Linked DNA regions of Homo sapiens. The protein of the gene in region 1 interacts with the protein of each later gene in a pairwise test. Each region holds a gene or a part of one and is shown on either strand. Other genes may lie near its edges.

Region 1 (9,433 bases):
GGTGACAGAGCGAAACTCTGTCTCAAAAAAAAAAAAAAAAAAAAAACCGGGCGCAGTGGCTCACTTCTGTAATCCCAGCACTTTGGGAGGCCAAGGCGGGCGGATCACCTGAGGTCTGGGGTTTGAGACCAGCCTGACTAACATGGAGAAACCCTGTCTCTACTAAAAATAGATACAAATATTAAATATAAATATAAATATATAAGCATGGTGTTGCATGCTTATAATCCCAGCTACTCCAGAGGCTGAGGCAGGAGAATCGCTTGAACCTGGGAGGCGGAGGTTGCCATGAGCCAAGATCGCGCCATTGCACTCCAGCCTGGGCAACAAGGGCGAAGCTCTGTCTCAAAAAACAAACAAACAAACCGAAAAAGAAAAACAAATCATGCTGTTACAGGAAAGAGGTTCCAGACCTCAAGAGAGGGTTCTTGGATCTTGCGCAAGAAAGAATTCAGGGCAAGCCCATACAGTAAAGCAAAAGCAAGTTATCAGGAAAGTAAAGGAATAAAGAATGGTTTCTCTACAGACAGAGCAGCCCTGAGGGCTGCTGGTTGCCCATTGTTATGTTTTTTTGGATGACATGCTAAACAAGGAGTGGATAATTCATCCCTCCCCTTTGTAGACCATATAGGGGAACTTCCTGACGTTGCAGTGGCATCTGTAAACCGTCATGGTGCTGGTGGGAGTGTAGCGGCAAGGACAACCAGAGGTCACTGTCGTTGCCATCTTGGTTTTGGTGGGTTTTGGCCGGCTTCTTTATCGGAACCTCTTTTATCAGCAAGGTCTTTGTGACCTGTATCTTGTGCCGACCTCCTGTGTCATCCTGACTTGGAATCCTTTAACCATCCAGAAATGCAGCTCAGTAGGCCCCAGCCTTATTTTACCCAGCTCCCATTCAAGATGGAGTTGCTCTGGTTCACACACCTCTGACAGTGATCTAGGACCCAAAATGAAAACTAACATCTCCCTCATGCTGCCCCGTGGACCCCTCAGGCAGTTGTGTTTCCTTGCAGTTGGGTTCTGCCCCCACCTCCACACACATGCCCTCACTGAGTTTGGGAGGGGGCTTCACCCCTGGGGCAAGGCCCACATGCACTCTTCTGGACCTGCATGGAGTTGCTTTTCGGGCCTGCCTCAGGGTCTCTGCACTTCCTGTTCCTCCCTCCTGGACCGCTTGTCCCCAGAGAAACGTGTGGCTGGGGACGCATTTGGTCAGGCCTCAGCTCCCCAGGCCACGCCCACTCGGTGAGCACCTTCCCATCCTCCGTGCCAGGCTGCCTTTCTGCATTCTTGGCTACCTGACTCCCCTGTGAGAAGCGAACCCCACAAAGGCGGGGAGTTGCTGTTTTTGTTTTGTTTTGTTTTTTGTTTTGAGACCGTGTCTCATTCTGTCGCCCAGGCTGGAGTGCAGTGGTGCAATCTCGGCTCACTGTAACCTCCGCCTCCCGGGTTCAAGTGATTCTCCTGCCTCAGCCTCCTGAGTAGCTGGGATTACAGGCGCCCGCCACCACACACAGCTAATTTTTTGTATTTTTAGTAGCGATGGTTGGCCAGGCTGGTCTTGAACTCCTGACCCCATGATTTGCCCGCCTCGGCCTCCCAAAGTGTTGGGATTACAGGCATGAGCCACCGTGCCCAGCCCAGGCAGGGCATTGTTTAGGCCAGTGGTCTGCCCCCATCACCTCAGGTAAATGCAGCACACAGTAGGCACTCAATCAATGTTTGTTGATTGAACAAACGAGTGTTGAACCCCAGCCCACACCGTGACTGGGCAACAGCAAATGTTCAGGGAGTACCTGCTGCATGAATGAATTAATGAATGGCCTGTTCTGCTCCAGTGGTTTGTGGTGGTTGAACATCGTTTAGGTGAACGTTGGAGTTGGAGGGGAGGCTCGCGGAATCCGGTGAGCAGAGCAGGCTTCCCGCCCCAGGCCAGAGTCCATGGGAACCCTTATCACCCCTGCAGGGCTGGGCAGCAGAGGAGGCACATGTCTCTTGGAGGCAGGTGTCAGGACATGAACTGTTGGCCCTGTAGGTCAGGGTGATTCCAAATCCCACCTCAAGGTGTGGGTTGGGCTGTAATAGAAGATTTGGAAAATCAAGGTTTGTACAGCCAGAGGCACTTGCGGCACCAGAAGGGGAGGAGCGACCCTGCCCAGACCGACAGAGCCTACGGATGGGTGGGAGTGCTGGCAAGGCTGAGGTGGGCAGCAACCTCCTGGACCACCTTGTGGCCAGGCAGTTGTCTTCACAAGAGGCCCAGGGGAGCAAGGCCCTAAGGCTCAGAGGCCAGGAGTGCAGACGGGGAGCCCTGGGAGGCTCAGGGGCTGGGTGGCTGTTGCCAGTTCTTCACTTGGTGCCCACTGCTGGGGATACATCAGGGGACAGAGGGGCCGGTCTTCCTGCCACCTCTGCCCAGAGTGGTCCAGGCTTACACAGTGAGAACACAATTACAGCTAAGATGGGGCCTCCAAAAGTACAGGGACAGCATGGGACCCCCAGGGGTGACACAGCACTAAAACCTGAAGGATTGGGAAACTATCAGGCCAGCCGGAAAGTGGAGTGAAGGAGGAAGTGGTCAGAGCTCAGGACAGGAAGGACACAGGACCACATCTTAGCTCCACGCCCAAAGCCAGGCACAGCCTCCAGTCTTTTTTTTTTTTTTTGAGACGGAGTCTCGCTCTGTCGCCCAGGCTGGAGTGCAGTGGTGCCATCTCGGCTCACTGCAAGCTCCGCCTCCTGGATTCACGCCATTCTCCTGCCTCAGCCTCCCGAATAGATGGGACTACAGACGCCCGCCACCACGCCCGGCTCATTTTTTGTGTGTGTGTGTGTTTTTAGTAGAGACGGGGTTTCACCATGTTAGCCAGGATGGTCTCGATCTCCAGACCTCGTGATCCTCCCGCCTTGGCCTCCCAAAGTGCTGGGATTACAGGCATGAGCCACCGTGCCCAGCCTTTTTTTTTTTTTTTTTTTGAGATGGAGTTTTGCTCTTCTTGACCAGGCTAGAGTGCAATGGCGCGATCTTGGCTCACCGCAACCTCCACCTCCGGGGTTCAAGCTATTCTCCTGCCTCAGCCTCCCGAGTAGCTGGGATTACAGGCATGGGCCACCATGCCCGGCTAATTTCGTATTTTTAGTAGAGACGGGATTTCTCCATGTTGGTCAGGCTGGTCTCGAACTCCTGACCTCAGGTGATCCGCCCGCCTTGGCCTCCCAAAGTGCTGGGATTACAGGCGTGAGCCACCGTGCCCGGCCTCCAGTCTTTTTCATACCTTCCTCCAATACCCAGCCAGGGGCCACAGAGAAGCCCACAGACCAAGGGCCAGCTGGGGCCGCCTCCCCCAAGGCTCTGGATGGTATGAAAAGCCCTTGTTTCATCTGCACGGTGGGTTCAGTTCCATGCGGGGCCATGGCTGGCCTGGCCTGGACACTGCTGGCCACGCTGTCCTGAGCTGCAGCAGCCTTGCTCACTGCTGGCCACCGACTCCACATCCACACTGGCCTCCCCTGCCATACCACTGAGCTGTTCCCAGCCCTTCCCCATCCCTTAGGCCTCAGCCTGGCTTGGTGCCCACTCAAGGATGGTGTTTCCCATATGATTTCACTGGATACGGCTCCCCAGTGCCATTCACAGAGCACCCACTGTGGGCCAGGCCAATGCCAGGCCTAGAAGGAGCCCTGTCCTGCTTGCAAATAGCCAGGGCCCCCTGGGCCAGGAGAAAGCTGTCCCCTGTGTTTTATCTAACTAGGCTTCAGGGGGAAGGGGACTGGGGCCAGAGCAGAGTTCTGAAGGATGTAGTGCGGTCAGCCTGGAGCAGAGGGGAAGGGCCTTCCTGGTAGAAGAGCCACCAGGCACAGGGGCCTGGAAGTGAGGGAGTGCAGGGACCCCAGGCCTGGCACTGGCGGTGAGGGGTGTGCTGGAAGCAGGGTAGGTGTGGGGATGGGGGGGCGGGGGCTTGCGTGTTGTGCTGGTTTGTTTTGTTTTGTTTTGTTTTTGAGACAAGATCTCGCTCTGTCACCCAGGATGGAGAGCAGTGGCTCAATCACAGCTCACTGCAGCCTCAACCTCTTGGGTTCAAGGGATCCTCCCACCTCAGCCTCCCAAATACCTGGGACCACAGGCATGCACCACCACGCCTGGCTAATTTTTTAAACTTTTTGTAGAAATAGGGTTGCCTTATGTTGCCCAGGCTGGTCTTGAACTCCCCAGCTCAAGTGATCCTCCCGCCTCGGCCTCGTGCTGGGTTTTTGAGCAGACCAGCCATTAAAGGGGAAGCTGGCTTACAGGACCAAGCTCTGATGGGCTGCTCCAGGCTCAGAGCTTCTTATGTCCTTCCAGCATTCCCTACGATGAAGGAGTCCCACTTAGAGTGAGTGACCCAGAAGAGAAGTGGACCCAGGATACTCCCTGGCCTGGGAAGATGCCTCTACAGCTTGAGACACAGGCACCAGTGGCTCAGGCCTGAGGACAGAGACCCAGGTAGGTATGCCAGCTGAGGCCTGCCCAGGAGGGAGGGTGGGAGACCCGCAGAGGGCCAAGGCAAGTCTCGGATTGGGGGCCTGTCTGGGGAGGGTGTTTGCACCCTGAACACCTCCCTGGAACCTAGAGGGTACTACTGGCCAGCCCTGAGATGGGCTCCCAGGGCTAGAACCCAGGCTAAGGCCTGGTCTCACCTCCCATGTGGACAGACCAAATGAAGACAGAGTGACCAGATCCCAGCTGGAAACACAGCAGAGGCAGGGGGACAGGGCTGCGGGAGCCAGGAGAGCAGCTGGAGGAGGTGTCCAGCCAGGGGAAGGAGGAGAGGAGAGCAAGAGGCAGAGGGAGCTGGTCACTAGATGGGGATCTGGGGACACAGGAGAAAGTGGCTTTGTTCTGCAGCAGGCAGGCCAGGCCAGACTGTCCCGAGGGACCAGAGGAGGAGCCAGCAGCAGTGGGGACAGAAAGGCCTCTGTGAGTGGGAAGCGCCCAGCTGGCTGGAGCCTACGATCCTCTTGGGGCCCTCCTGGTGGAAGAGAAGGGGGCCGCAGGGTCACCTGTGCTTGCGGCCAGGGAACTAGAGGGGAAAAGTGGGATCTTTGGAGGGGGTGCCCCCCCCCATTCTTACCCCACGAGGCTACCTGGAGACAGGTTTTTTTGTAGGGTGCCAGGCCCCGCCCCTTGGAGAGGTGGCCGGGGCAGCCAGCCACAGCTGGATCCGAGAAAGCGCCTGGCCGCGGCAGGAGGTTTGGTGGGGCTGGGGCGGGGCAGAAAGGAAGGTCTGCGAGGCCAGAGTGGAGCAGGAGCTGGGGGATCCGGTTCCGCCTGCCCAGGGCCTCCGCGCGCCTCCCAGGGCCACTCGGCAAGAAAAAAAAAAAAAAAATCAAACCTCCTCTCAGCCTATCAGAGAGCAGATGGGACGGGCTCGGCCAATGGCCGCGGCGCATGTTAATGAGGGCTGACGCCGCGAGGAGGGCCCCATTCAAAAGTAGTCGCTATTGTCGCCGTGGGCTGAGCTCGCCGGGCCGGCCCCTCCGTGGGGCCGCGCTGGGACGCACGCGGGTGGACGAGGGGACCGATCCCGGGCGCCCATGGCCGGGGCCGCCATGGCCGAGCGGGGCCGCGTGCCTCCCCCCGCACCCGCGCCCAGCACGGAGGGGCTGCCGCGCGCCTTCCTGCAGAGCCTGCGCACCCTGTTCGACATCCTGGACGACCGGCGGCGCGGCTGCGTGCACCTGCGCGAGATCGAGTCCCGCTGGCAGGGCACCGACGCGCGGGAGCTGCCCCGCGGGGTGCTGGAGGGCTTGCGCCAGGTGGCCCCGGCCAGCGGCTACCTGACCTTCGAGCGCTTCGTGGCCGGCCTGCGCACCTCCCTGCTGAGCGCCGACGGCGGCCCCCGGGACCCCACGCGCGCCCCGGCCCGGCCCGGGGATCAGCCGCCGCCGCCGCCGCAGCGCCTGGTGTTCGCTCCGGCCGACGAGCCGCGGACGGTCCTGGAGAGGAAGCCCCTGCCCCTGGGCGTGCGCGCCCCTCTGGCCGGTCCCAGCGCCGCCGCCCGCAGCCCGGAGCAGCTGTGCGCCCCGGCTGAGGCGGCGCCCTGCCCCGCGGAGCCCGAGCGGTCCCAGAGCGCGGCGCTGGAACCGAGCTCCAGCGCGGACGCAGGTGAGTTCCGGACGGCCCCCGGGCACCCTCGTAGCTCTCCCGGGCCCGGGCCAGAAACCGCAGTCCCACAGCTGCTGCCCGTGCATTTCCCACAAGGGACGGGACCGGGGAGCGGCTCTTCGTGGACTCCGGATCCTGGAGGGCGCCTCGGCGGGTCTGGAGGGAAAGGGCTTCATGCTTGTCGCGGTGAGCCCAGGGGCTTGCTTAGGGAGGCAAGCCAGACCCTCTCCTGCCACAGCATAAGGCCACCAGGGCCGGGGGGTGGCAGGTGACTCAGAAAACCCACCGGGAGCCCAACCTGTACCAAGCCTGAGCTTGGGCTCTCCATCTCCAATACCCTTTCCGCACCTGGGGACACCTGGGCCCTCAGCCTCCTGTCTGTGGCTGCTCAGGCAGAAGTGCTTCCTTCTCAAAGAAAGGGTCCCCCTTCTCAGTGTGACAGCTTAGCCAGGGGGGCTGGGCCCACTGACCCCACTGAGGCCTAGGCAGGCGGGGGCTGCTGCTGGTGGCCCAAGAGGACCTGGCCCTGTTGCCAAGATGGGCAGGGGCGTGGGTGGATCTCCTGCACCCCAGTGGGGCTGTACTATGGCAGATGCCATGGAGGGACATAGGCCGTAGTCCCTGGGGATGGCTGGCACACTCCTCTCCTGCCTTCCGGTCCAGTTGGCAGTGATGGGAGATTGCTGAATGGTCCCCTGTCTCCCCCAACCCAGTGCCTGCCTTGGGAACAGGACCTGTATTATGGCTGGGGTTGGGGGGCCAAGCTCCCAGAGGGGCCCCAGGCCCCACAGCCCATTCGGCCTGTGCACCCGTTCTGCCAGGGGAGGCCTGCCCACCGGTGGCTCCTGCCGGTCCCTGTGCTGCCTGCTGCTCTGCCACCCTCCCTGTACTGCTCCCCCACCTCAGCCATATTCTCCAGCCCTACAGCTGGTGTTTGGAGCCACGGCGGCCCTGGCCTCCCTGGTGATCTGATCCAGCAGCCACACCAGGCTGGGGGACCCCTAGTTCTATGGTGAGGGAACCTTCAGAGGGTATCTGGCTCCAAATGCAGGGTCAGCGTCATCCATGTGGCCATGCAGTTTGAAATCAGCCATGGGATTGCACGCTGTGGCCGGGCCTGGGGTTTGGAGGCCTAAGCCTGTGGTCCACCCCTGCTCTGCTCTGATGCCCCATGCGGCACTGGCTCACGTACCACATCTCCCTGAAGGCCACATGGCTAGGGCTGTAGCTGTCACCCTCTCACAGGCAAACGGAGGGCCAGACAAATGGCGTGACATATTTGATTGACACAGCTGGCTTTTGGGGTGTCAAATCTGGAGCTCTGAGGTCACCCCAACTCCCAGAAAGCCTGCCAACACACACAGCCTTCCAAGCCCCCAGCCCAGATGTTCAGGGCCTCTTTCCTTGTTCCCACCTGGGACTGCGTGTTTGCTCCAGGCTGGCTGTGGCCCTGGAGGTGTGGCCTGCTGGCTCAGGGCCCTGGAGGGGCAGAGCCACCACCCCCACCTAGAGGCCATCTAGCTCATCACCCAGCACGCTGCTATCTGGGGACCCAGGAGCTGCTCTATGGACTCAACTGTACAGACCGGGCCCAGGTGTCCTGGGACTTCCTCTATGGCCTCCCTCTGTCTGTACCCTCTCTGCTCCCACCTCCTGAAGGGCTGTGTGCTCTTCCACTGTCTTGCCCCAGAGCTGCCAGCCGCTCAGCACCGCAGGCTGGAGTGCGAATTCGGGCCTGCCTGGAGCCAGGCTCTCTGCCGTGCCTACCTGGGCCCAATTCTTGCATCACTCCCTGACTCCTGTGGCCAGGTGCCAGGGGCATGGCCTCTAAGGATGTGCCTGGTGCTGGGGCTACAGCTGGAGGCCGAAGGAGGATGCCTTCCTCCACACCTGTACCCACTTCTGTAGCCTGGGGAGGTGCACCTACTCCCTCACCAGGAAGCTGGGCCGGAGTGGCACCAACGCGATACTCTTGGCTGCCCCCAGGGGGAGCCCTCAAACAAACTTCAGAGCAGGGGTCTGTGAGCACCAGGACGTGCCTGACTTGTCAGTTGGGTGCACCGCCTGGCGTATCACACACGCGGGACTTTTTTTTTTTTTTTTTTTTTTTTTTTTGAGATGGAGTCTTGCTCTGTCGCCCAGGCTGGAGTGCAGTGGCGCGAATCTCAGCTCACTGCAACCTCCGCCTCCTGGGTTCAAGCGATCCTCCTGCTTCAGCCTCCCGAGTAGCTGGGATTACAGGTGCATGCCACCACGCCCTGCTAATTTTTGTATTTTTAGTAGAGACAGGGTTTCACCATGTTGGCTAGGCTGGTCTTGAACTCCTGACCTCAACTGATCCCCCCCCGCCCCAGCTTCCCAAAGTGCTGGGATTACAGGTGTGAGCCACCGTGCCCGGCAAGGGATCTTTTTTTTTTTTGAGACAAAGTTTTGCTGTGTTGCCCAGCCTGGAGTGCAGTGGCGCAATCTGGGCTCAGTGGAACCTCTGCCTCCCAGGCTCAAGCAATCCTCCTGCCTCAGGCTCCTGAGTAGCCGGGACCACAGGTGCATGCCACTGCACCAGGCTAATTTTTGTGTTTCTAATAGAAATGGGGTATTGCCGGCCGGGCACAGTGGCTCACGCCTGTAATTCCAGCACTTTGGGAGGCTGAGGTGGGTGGATCACCTGAGGTCAGGAGTTCAGGACCAGCCTGGTCAACATGGTGAAACCTCATCTCTACTAAAAAATACAAAAAGTAGCTGGGCATGGTAGTGGGTGTCTGTAATCCCAGCTACTCGGGAGGCTGAGACCGGAGAATCACTTGAACCTGGGAGGCGGAGGTTGCAGTGAGCCAAGATCATACCATTGCACTCCAGCCTGGGCAACAGGAACAAAACAACGTCTCAAGAAAAAAAGGAAGAAATGGGGTTTTGCCATGTTGCCCAGGCTGGTCTCAAACTCCTGAGCTCAAGCGATCCACCCGCCTTGGTCCCCAAAAGTGCTGGGATTACAGGCGTGAGCCACTGTGCCCGGCCATGCGGGACTAACTTTCTATCAGAGTCACCATCCTGGGAAAAGTTAGGTTTCCGTCATTCACACCCACATCTCCTGCTGCCTTGCAGGACCCCGTGCAGATGGGAGAGGCGTAGTCAGGACCAGAACCCCCCCGCCCACTCCTCCCTTACCCAGCTGCCTTGGAGACCCAGGGTGTGCCTGCCATGTTCTGGGCACTGGGTGTGCAGAAGAGAGCTGGATAAGGCCTCTGGCCCCAGAGAGCTCACGGACCGATGAGGGGGCAGGGTGTGTGT
Region 2 (5,267 bases), on another chromosome or scaffold:
AACTGGCAAGGTCCCTGCCACGAGGGGAATAGTCCAGGCTACCACCAGCCCCTGCCACTGCTCTGCACACCTCCCTCTTCAAGGGCCCGGCCTGTTGTCCTCGGGTTTGGACCGGGTTCGCTCTTTTGTAGAAACGAGGCCTGGAGAACACCTTGCACGATGCCAAGCACTGGCATGACATGGAGCTCCAGAACCTGGGCGCTGTGGTCGGCCGGCTGGAGGCGGAGCTCAGGGAAATCCGAGCGGAGGCGGAGCAGCAGCAACAGGAGCGCGCGCATCTGCTGGCCCGCAAGTGCCAGCTGCAGAAGGACGTGGCGTCCTACCACGCCCTGCTGGACAGGGAGGAGAGCGGGTAAGCCTCGCTTCCGCGTCAATTATCCAAGAGATGCATATTCATGGCTTTAAAAATAATTATTTTCCAAACACTGTAGAAGTATTTAAGAAGAAATCACCCCAGACTTCCTCTCACATAGGCACCCATTCCCACAGCCTAGCTGTGTCCTTCCTTTCCTATTCACATACAAATAATATATATAATATATTCACATACTAATACATTTTCTATATGTATGCATATTTATGTATGTATATATACACACATACATTCACATACATGTGTATACCTAGGACGTACATAATAGCTGTTAGGAATGTTTCAGTTGCTTGTAATAGAACCTAATTAATGAGGCTATAAACCAGTGCTCCTGAAACTAATGTGCACTCAAAACCCTGCGCATCTTTTTTTTTTTTTTGGATACAGGGTCTCGTCTCGGTATGTTGCCCAGGCTGGTCTCGACTCAAACCCCTGGGCTCAAGTGATCCTCTCACCTAAGCCTCCAGAATAGCTGGGGTTACAGGTGTGAGCCGTGACACCCCAGCTGGGCATCTTTTTTAAATGCAGATTCTGCTTCAGTACGTCTGGGGTGGGGTCTGAGAGTCTTCCTTTCTAACAAGCTCCCAAGTGATGACTATACTGCTGCTCCACAGACTACACTCTGAGTAGCAAAGATGTGTAAATCATTTATTTAAGAGTCCCAGAAACAGGTGATCTAGGCTGCTCAAAGATTTCATTAAGGACTCAAGCTCTTTTCATCTTTCTAACATACCATGACAACATTGGCTTTTTGTCTTTATCTTTGTCACCCCATGGTTACCATATGCCAGCCACAGATCCAAACATCACATCCTCATTCCTGGCCGGAAGTGGGAGAGAAGAGGCAGCAGCAAAAAAAAAAAAAAAAAAAAAGGCTTTTTCTTTTTTTTTATTGATCATTCTTGGGTGTTTCTCGCAGAGGGGGATTTGGCAGGGTCATAGGACAATAGTGGAGGGAAGGTCAGCAGATAAACAAGTGAACAAAGGTCTCTGGTTTTCCTAGGCAGAGGACCCTGCGGCCTTCCGCAGTGTTTGTGTCCCTGGGTACTTGAGATTAGGGAGTGGTGATGACTCTTAACGAGCATGCTGCCTTCAAGCATCTGTTTAACAAAGCACATCTTGCACCGCCCTTAATCCATTTAACCCTGAGTGGACACAGCACATGTTTCAGAGAGCACAGGGTTGGGGGTAAGGTCACAGGTCAACAGGATCCCAAGGCAGAAGAATTTTTCTTAGTACAGAACAAAATGAAAAGTCAAAAGGCTTTTTCTTGAATGATCCTCTCCTTTAATCAGTGAAGGAAAGACATTTTGAGGCTTGCAGTGGACTGTCCCTTATATCTCATTGGCCAGAACCTGCTTATACTGGCCATACCCATCTGCAAGGGAGGCTAAGAAAGCAACTCTTTAGCTTTTCCAGACTCCATAGTGGAGGCAGGCAAGGGGTTGGGACTAGGAGTTGAGTTAGTCTGCCATAATTACACACACACACTTGCACTCACTCTTTTTTTAATAGATAAGGATTCCAGAGGCATATACATCAGCCTTGGGCCTTAGCTTCCTTGCCAACTCTTTCCAGAAACCCAGGCCCTTATTTTGTATCATAGTTCTATGCCTTCTTATTTCCCTCCAAGACTCCTTGTCTGACATATGTTGAATAAGGAATAGAGACAGCTTAGTGATTGTATCATCCAACCCCTCCTGATTCAAGAGAGAACACAAAGACCCAGAATGGAAAAAGATTTGCGCATGATCACACAGGAGGCGGAGACAGCACTGGGATGGGAGCCCAGGTCTCCTGCTCTCTCCAACTGTGTAACCTCTCTTTATTCAGAAGGCGGGAGAGCCTCAAGGAAGCGACCTAACCACGCCCTGCTTTCAAATGGAAAATATGTCATCCAGCTCCTCTCCAACTGTCTTTTATTGAATTGATTTTTGTTGATTATAAAAGCCAGATGTTCCTAACAAAGTATTTTTTTTTCAGATGCCTATGAGCATCTGTATAAACACACAAAGTCAATTTAAACAAACAGCAAGAGCAGTGAGTTAGGCCGAGTTACTTCTTAAGAATCTATGTGCTACGTTCATTTAGTGAGTGCCAAGGCAGACCTGACTCTTGATTATTTTTGTTTATCCTCCAAACCCTGCCAAGACAACCTCATGATCCGTGTTTTAGAGACAGGAAACAAAGCCTCAGAGAGCTTAAGTCATGGCCCAAGGTCTCACAGCAAATAACCATGGAGTAATTATTTAAAACCCAAAACTATCTTGTTCCAAAGGCCAGATTCTTTCATGAGATGGCCCCCTTTCTCGTAATCCTATTGTGATAGAATGACCGATTTTCCTCACCCATTGCTTCTGACTCCTATGTGTTTCCTTTCAGCTGATGGAGAAACTTCCTCTTTTTCATGAAGAAAACACCCTTCCTCAACAGCTGACCCAAGAAGTTGCTTGAGGAGCTTTCTCCTGAGCTCCAGTCCCTGCTGGATTCCCTGGTTAATTCAGCTTGAGCTGAAAAGCTTCCTGGAAGTGGAGAGGATCCTTCTGCTTTAATCTGAGTAGTCTGTAGCTTGAGCAATCTCCCTTGTCCTCCTTCAAATAAATGCTTTGTGCGCAGCGTCCAGTTTGCCCACCTTGTTCAACTCACTATAGGGTCGAGATGGATATCACTTTGTCTGTCTGGCCTTTGCTCACAGAGCTATGCTTGAAGGCTTCTGGAAGGATTCCCTTGAGTGTGACGCCATCTGCCTCCCTAGGGTCACCTGCTCTTGGGTTTGTCAACATAAAAGTGCTGCGGAGGCAAAAGCAGTGCTCATGGCATGCAGGATTGACGCAGTCTGGGACAAAAAACAACACTCTTGCTCGAGAGGGGATTAGTGTGGTGCTTTATCACATGTTTCATAATTACAGGCATCGTGGAGTATTCAGACCTCTTTAATATACTCTGCATGCATATTCATGTGCAGACACACACATTTCACTTGCTATTGGCAGAGCATCTCTCAATCAGTTAAAAGGGAACTTCAATCTAAGCCCAATCTAAACCCATTCAATCTAAGTGGGGGATTAATTACACTGTGGTTGCTCACCCCACTTACAGCCTCAGAATTTTCTTCCAGGGTCCTTTCTCCAGTTCTCTCAGGGCCTAAGCCAGCCAAATATAGTTCATGCATCTGCCACCTACCCAGGCAAGACTCTCTTGCCTTCTGATTAAAATTGAAACCACCACCTGTGTCCTACCACAGGTTCTCAGTGTCTCTAAAACTGAAAGGAAAAAAAAAAAAAAAAAAAGCCCAACTTTAATTTTGTCATTCCTCCCTCAAACTTCTGTTGGTCTACCTATCACACAGAATTACAGACCAAAATATCCAAGCTGAGTCTTTGTGTTTGTGAGCTGCTAATCCAGACAGGGGGATGTATCCAACACTGGTACATTTGAAAACCCCCATACCCGAGGGTCCAAATAACCAAGGCCCACACAAAGAAAAGAACATTTATTTATCCTTAAGGATTGCTTATAAGAGAAGCAAGGTGGCCAGGCGCGGTGGCTCATGCCTGTAATCCCAGCACTTTGGGAGGCCAAGGTGGGCAGATCACAAGGTCAGGAGTTCGAGACCAGCCTGGCGAATATGGTGAAACCCCGTCTCTACTAAAAATACAGACGTTAGCCAGGCTTGGTGGCGGGCGCCTGTAGTCCCAGCTACTCAGGGGGCTGAGGCAGAAGAATCGTTTGAACCCAGGAGGCGGAGGTTGCAGTGAGCCGAGATTGTGCCACTGCACTCCAGCCTGGGCAACAGAGCAAGACTATCACACAAAAAAAATAAATAAATAAAAGGCAAGATATATGGTATCCTGGTTGGAATTGCTACAACTGGTTTTCCTTTTTGGCCTGCAAGAGCAAAGGAATTGTATTAAAGATCACATGAGCAGAACCACTATTTACAATGTGCATAGCCCCTTGACATAGGTCAGTTTGTTGTTTGAGACATGGAAATAGGCAAGACACCCTAAAACTACATTTTAGCAAAGTATCCATCTCCATAGCTGCACACTATGGGGCTGCCCATAATTGAACCGCCTGGGTACAAGAGTCTTGCCAGAAAACAAAGTGGGTGGCTGGCCTTGCTATGTTGGATGCACAAGACACTGACGTCTGTTTCTTTTCTGTCTTTCTTGTTACTATTAATTTTTGGTCCCTCAGGCAAGACCTAAATTCCTAACCTAAATGTAGCTGGAGGCTTCAAAGGTGACAGTCCCCAAAAGGTCAGCCATCAAAAGGAGGTACTTCTATGACCGAATGGCCATGCAGTTTTTAGAACCTGGAAGTCGTTTCAGCCACTGGAAAGACGGGAGAATGTATCTGCGCATCCTCCTGAGTTTCCACCAGACAGCATGCTGTGCAGGGCTGCACACACTTGGTCTCCTCCGCACCATCATCTCAAAGAGCAGCTGCCGTAAATCATTCAGTTAATCACCCTTTGGCAGGGAGAGCCGTGGCAGACTGGTGCTTCCAGTTCCCAGCACAGGCTCTTGCTGTTTCTAATGAGGCTTCATTAACAGGTATGAGAAGGCACTGCTGGCCCCCCAACTCTGCCAGGGCCTCGTTTAAATCAGGCTTCCTCTCACAACATCCCAGTACAATTACGCTTTGGCAGTGGTTCACTGACAGGTGGCAGGGGAGGCTGCTGCTTGTATTGGTGTCAAGGACAGAGCATTTGTTCTGGAGCAGACCAGAGCAGGGCTCCCAATGGACACCTCCTGAAACACAACCGAGCTCTATTTCCACACCAGGCAACTCCACTGGCCTCTGGCCTAGCTTCTGAAGGGCTGTGTGAACTCCCAATGGGATTGCTAGAGCATCCATGGCTTTCAGATTCAACATTCTTTTATATCAA
Region 3 (5,400 bases), on another chromosome or scaffold:
TTATGAAATTCAATGTTTTGTTTATATCTTCATATTGTGTATATTGTATATACACATATACCCTTCAACTGTTTTCTTAATCCTAGCAGTTGTTGATTGTGTTGAAAAATCTTTCACATATTCTTTTTACATTTACATGAATTGTAATTTTACCTTTGAAAATTTAGAACATTCTCAGACAAATAAATGTTATGTCTAAAAATAATAAAACATTGGATATTTCTCGTACGTCTGAATTTCCTCTCCAAACCAACATATAGCCCTGTCTTCCAATTCTCCTGACTGAAGGTATTGTGTGGTCATTTTTTAAATTATCGTGGCAAAATACACATAACATAAAATTTAACATTTTAACCATTTTAAAGTATACAACCCAGTACATTATCAATGTTGTACAACCATCACCACTATCTAGCTCCAGAACTTTGTTGTCACCTCAAAAGGAAATGTTATGTTTTTTACGGTAATAATTATGTGAAAAAGGTGCCATTTTTGTACCATGAACAGACTAATATTAAACTTAACACCCTTGGTAATTTTTTTTTTTTTTGAGACGGAGTTCTGCTCTGTCACCCAGGCTGTAGTGCAGTGGTGCGACCTCAGCTGACTGCAACTTCTGCCCCCCAGGCTCAAGCGACTCTCCTGCCTCAGCCTCCCCAGTAGCTGGGATTACAGGCGCACACCACCATGCCTGGCTAAGTTTTTGTATTTTTACTAGAGACAGCATTTCGCTATGTTGGCCAGGCTGGTCTCGAACTCCTGACCTCAAGTGATCCACCCACCTCAGCCTCCCAAAGTGCTGGGATTACAAGCGTGAGCCACCGCGCCTGGCCCACCCTTGATTATTTTATTTTATTTTATTTTTTTTGAGACAAGGTCTCACTCACATCACCCATGCTGGAGTGCAGTGGTGTGACTATGACTGACTGCAGCCTCAACTTCCTAGGCTCAAGTGATTCTCCTACCTCAGCCTCCTGAGTAGCTAGGACAAGTGCGTGCCACCATGCTGGGCTAATTTTTTTTATTTTTAGTAGAGACAAGGCATCAATATGTTGCCCAGGCTGGCCTTGAACTCTTGAGCTCAAGCAATCCTTCCGCTTCGGCCTCCCAAAGGGCTGGGATTACAGGTGTGAGCCACTGTGCCTGGCCAATTTTAATTTTTATCTTGAAAACGTTTTATAAAAAGCTAGTCTTTCTGATAGCTCATTCATTTACAACTTTTCTAAATGATATTATCTCTAATCATTTTTTAACACTTATAGTTTATTCATTTATATAATTCTGTCCTTTCCGGCATGCTCATCTATAACTCAAGGCACAAAATGTAAGCATATTAATTTTTTAATTTGTCTTATTAATGTTTGTATCTCCCCAACGCCTGTCTCTAAGCATTTTTTAACAAGGTATATATTTTATTCCAGACTGTGTTTAGAAATTCATATTGAAATTGCATAGGAATTGTGTACATTTACAGATGTTTTAAAAATGGAATCTAATTTTCCATACATGATGTCACATTCTCTGTTTCACCAAATATAAAATAATTAATGTCCTTTTGTGTCAATAAACCTATCCATACATAATCATTCCAACGGCTGCATGGTATTTCCTTAACACTTTCCTTTGTCTAGGAATATAAAGGAAATCATATTCCCCACTCCATTTAATTGTGCTATCCTACTCTTTCAGCCTTTAGGTGGCATTGAAGTAACACCTGTACTTTGAATTGTTAAATATGCAGATTTGGCTTATTCTGTTCCCCAAATTGGCCTCTTCCCAACTTTCTAACTGCATTTCTCATCAAACTCCTTTTACTTGTTTCAAGCAGACTGGGTTCATCCATGCTACTAGAACAGATTATTCAATTACACACTTTTCTTCAAACCACCACTGCCCACTTCCAAGAGCAACCTAATGATTTGTCTTATCCTACCCTTAGGCAAATCCCAGGGCTAAGATGGTAATTTAAATGGGTCCTATAAGAAGTATTAATTTTAGGTTGCTTGTTGGGAAGGCTCATAATTGGGCAAGCAGGCGGGCAAGTTGTCTTGCTCTCCTATCCTGACCAATTTGTTCTATCCTGACCAATTTAAGTGGGTCCCTCTTCTCGGAAACATTCCTCAAGTATCAGGGCCCACAATAATCTCTCCCTTCTTAACTCAAGAACAGAATTTTCTAATAAGCGCATGTTTGTCATACTAATAATTACCTATGTTTGTAAGTGCACACGATTTATCTGTACATGGTTCTTAAACTGAAGAAGGGTCACTTATGCCAATTTTAACATAGAACTTTATTGAAAACACAGACTCAAATAGAGAACCATATATTTAAACAACGAATAGCAGGGTAGCTTACTTAGGTGACACAGTTCATTGAAAACTTAATACTGAAAAATACCGCAATCTGGACAGCAAGACAAATATCAACAAATGTGTTTTCAGTTTTGATATTCATTTGGCATCCACAAAATGATCCAGCTCAAAACAAGAGTTTGACAAAGTTAACATCAGCATTAAAAAATATAAGTTACAACAAAAAAACAGACTGTGAACACCAAAGCACTACTCAGGGCTCTTTGGGAACATAAGGCTGATCAGCGGCAGGTGGTTAATCATATTAACTTTGTTGTCCCACCTCAGGATCATTTTGGTTGTCTATTTGGGCTTGTAGTTGCTTAGCTAACTCCTCAAATTCACGAAATGCAGAAATAAGCGGCTCAAGACTGAAATCATCATCAATTAAGGACATCTTTCCACTTTTTATAATGTTACTGATATTCTGAAACATTTTAATAACAATTTGAATATTATCATTTGTCTCTTCTATGTTAAAGAGACCCACAAATATTGAAAGAGCTTTGGCACTGAATAGTTTTTTTGCCACAGCAGGATTTTCAGACAAATTCAATAGCATTTTCAGAACGTGAAACTTCGTTCTCGCATTGGCTGTGGTTAATAAGGAGAGAAACCCGGACATATAGTTGGCAATCAGTGTGTGATAGTCAATAGTCATAGTGAGGTGTCTAAGCATCCTTATTCCAGTCAGCTGCTCAAGGGAATCCACACTATGTGCAAGGGTTTCCTCACACACTTGACATATGAATGTCTCAATCATGTTTAGATTTGGATAAGGTGGAGCCATGTGAATCATATTTTCCAAAAAACTTGTCCTAACTCTAGAGGATGGATAATTAAGCAAGGTTTCAATAAGTGAGACAACACCTGAATCTCGAATGAAATCTCGGGTAAATTGAGAAGCACTTCTCATACCCATTGCAATTTTAGATATTTCATGAATAAAAGGATCCCGAATTTTGTCCATTAATAAAAGGAATTCTTCAAACTCTTCAGAACCAATTTTCAGCTCACATTGTATGCAGCTGCAGGACCAACTCTCAGACTCTGCACTCTCCCTGGCCCTAAGATGCTCTCGAATTTCCCGGACTGACCGGTAGGAAGGATCATACTGAAATGTGAACTCAGGACTAGGCTGATCAGGCTGAAGCAAAGATTCCTGCTCTTCTCCTTCTGGGCTAAGTTCCAGGTTCTTGGGCTTTGCCTCAAGCATTTCAGAAGCCTCTTCGGGAATTCCAAAGGGGCTTGTGGATCGGAAGCCAACCCCATGAAAAAGACCAGGTTTGAATTCAACAGTGACCTCGTCCCAGGTTTGGGGCCTGGAGGATGCATTAAGCTCCTCAGCTGCATCTCTGAACCTATCACTGACCTTGTACACAGGACAGGGATTTAGGTCAAAGCAGGCCTCATCTCTGTCCCAGAACCAGGACCCAAATATGGCCTCTTCTTCAGACTCCGGCTTGGCCTCTTCTCTGGCCACAGCCCCCAAACTGGACTTTTCCTCAGCCCAGTACGCGGATCCGCCAATGGCCCCCTCCTCAGTTCCTGGCTCAGATTCACAGATTGCTGAAGCTCCACCCTCCAAACTGGCCTCTTTTTCTGCCCAGAACCAGGACCCAATAATGACTTCCTCCTCAAACCTGGGTTCTTGTTTGACCCTATCACTGTCAACATCTTTCTGGGCCCTGAGTTTCAAGGCAGTATTAGGATCTTCTTTGTCTCTGTGCCTGAATCTACTATTGGCCTCTTCTCCAGGCAAAACCCAGGACTGCTTATAGAACTCATCTTCAGACTCAGATTCAAAACAATCTTCTCTATTTGTCCTGAGCTTGGACCTGATATTTGCCTCCTCCCTGACTCTGGGCCTGAACAAGTTATTGGTATTTTCTCCAACCCAGAAGGAGAATGGGTTGCTGGCCTCATCCTCAGATCCAGACCAGGAATCAACATAGGCTTCTTGCTTGGATCTGGGCCTGGACCTGGGATTAGTCTGATGTTTAGCCCTGTGCCTGGACCTGGTATTGGACTCTTCCCTGGGCCATGATCTGACACTTGTCTCTTCTCCAGTCCAGAAAGAAGACGCTGTAGAGGTCTCATCTGCTGACCAGAACCCAGACTCATTAGAGGCCTCCTCTCTGGCCCTGGGCCTGGAATAGCACCAAGACCCCATATTAGTCTCCTCCCCTGGTCCAAACCAGGGCTGGATTCCTTTCTGACCCTGGGTGCCAGGAAAGGTTTCAGCATCCACATTGACTAGTTCTCTATCCATAGACAGGCCCTTAGATTTAGTAACTGATCCAGACTCAGCAGTGGCCAGTGGCCAAGCAACGGCATTAGTCTGGGACACTCCTTCTGCCTGTGACACTGCTTCAGTCCCAAATTCACTCTGGGCCCATGCCTGGGCCTCATCCTTGGGCCTTGCTCCAGGGATTGCCTTGGCATCAGTTTTAGAACGAGCGCCACCTACTGCCCTGGCATCGGTTTTGGGCCTGGCCCCTGTGATTCCTTGAGCCTCCGTTTTGGGTCTTGCACCACCCATTACTTGGACCTCAGTTTTGGGCCTTGCCCCAGACATTGCTTGGGCCTCAGTTTTGGGCCTTGCCGCAGGCACAGACTTGGTCTCAGTTTTGGGCCTTGCCCCAGTAGTTGCCTGGGTCCTAACCTTGGGTCTGACCACCAGAGGGACATCATTCTCTCTCTCAGGCCCAGCGATAACCTCTTCCCCAGCCTTCTTTTCAGGCTTGGCCTGGGCACTAGGCTCAATCTCTGCCCCAGTCATGGTACAAGTTACAAAGAAAGTCAGGTAATATACTCCTCCCGTAGTCTAAACCTCAACCACAGATCTGTCACAGGTTTGTTTCTTCACACTCTGATCTTTAGGTGATTAAGGATATAAGCTTGGGAATAAGAGTTAGAGTCAATATCCAGTCCAGTAGTCACTCAGCCTCCTTCCCAAACACAGTCTCAGTCAATAATTCAATAATACAGATAGAGTGAGAACAGGTACAACCAAGCTAAAGGAAGACAGATATTTCCTGGATGG

The links. Proteins that work in one complex are often made in the same cells at the same time.
Region 2: the proteins of SAPCD2 (region 1) and BFSP2 interact in binary tests that used the Homo sapiens proteins (3 or more experiments, as listed by UniProt).
Region 3: the proteins of SAPCD2 (region 1) and GPRASP2 interact in binary tests that used the Homo sapiens proteins (3 or more experiments, as listed by UniProt).

The regions. Positions count from the first base shown.
Region 1 is NC_000009.12:137,066,602-137,076,034, reverse strand, and holds the start of SAPCD2 (suppressor APC domain-containing protein 2), read left to right. Parts: upstream 1-5,477; 5' UTR 5,478-5,574; coding exon 5,575-6,145; intron 6,146-6,241; coding exon of another isoform or gene 6,242-6,331; intron 6,332-9,433. UniProt on the Homo sapiens protein: Plays a role in planar mitotic spindle orientation in retinal progenitor cells (RPCs) and promotes the production of symmetric terminal divisions. Negatively regulates the mitotic apical cortex localization of GPSM2.
Region 2 is NC_000003.12:133,472,214-133,477,480, forward strand, and holds the end of BFSP2 (phakinin), read left to right. Parts: intron 1-131; coding exon 132-352; coding exon of another isoform or gene 353-356; intron 357-2,755; coding exon 2,756-2,759; 3' UTR 2,760-2,995; downstream 2,996-5,267.
Region 3 is NC_000023.11:102,714,606-102,720,005, reverse strand, and holds the end of GPRASP2 (G-protein coupled receptor-associated sorting protein 2), read right to left. Parts: 5' UTR 5,137-5,400; coding exon 2,620-5,136; 3' UTR 2,273-2,619; downstream 1-2,272. Other genes in the region: ARMCX5-GPRASP2 (G-protein coupled receptor-associated sorting protein 2), read right to left, coding at 2,620-5,136. UniProt on the Homo sapiens protein: May play a role in regulation of a variety of G-protein coupled receptors.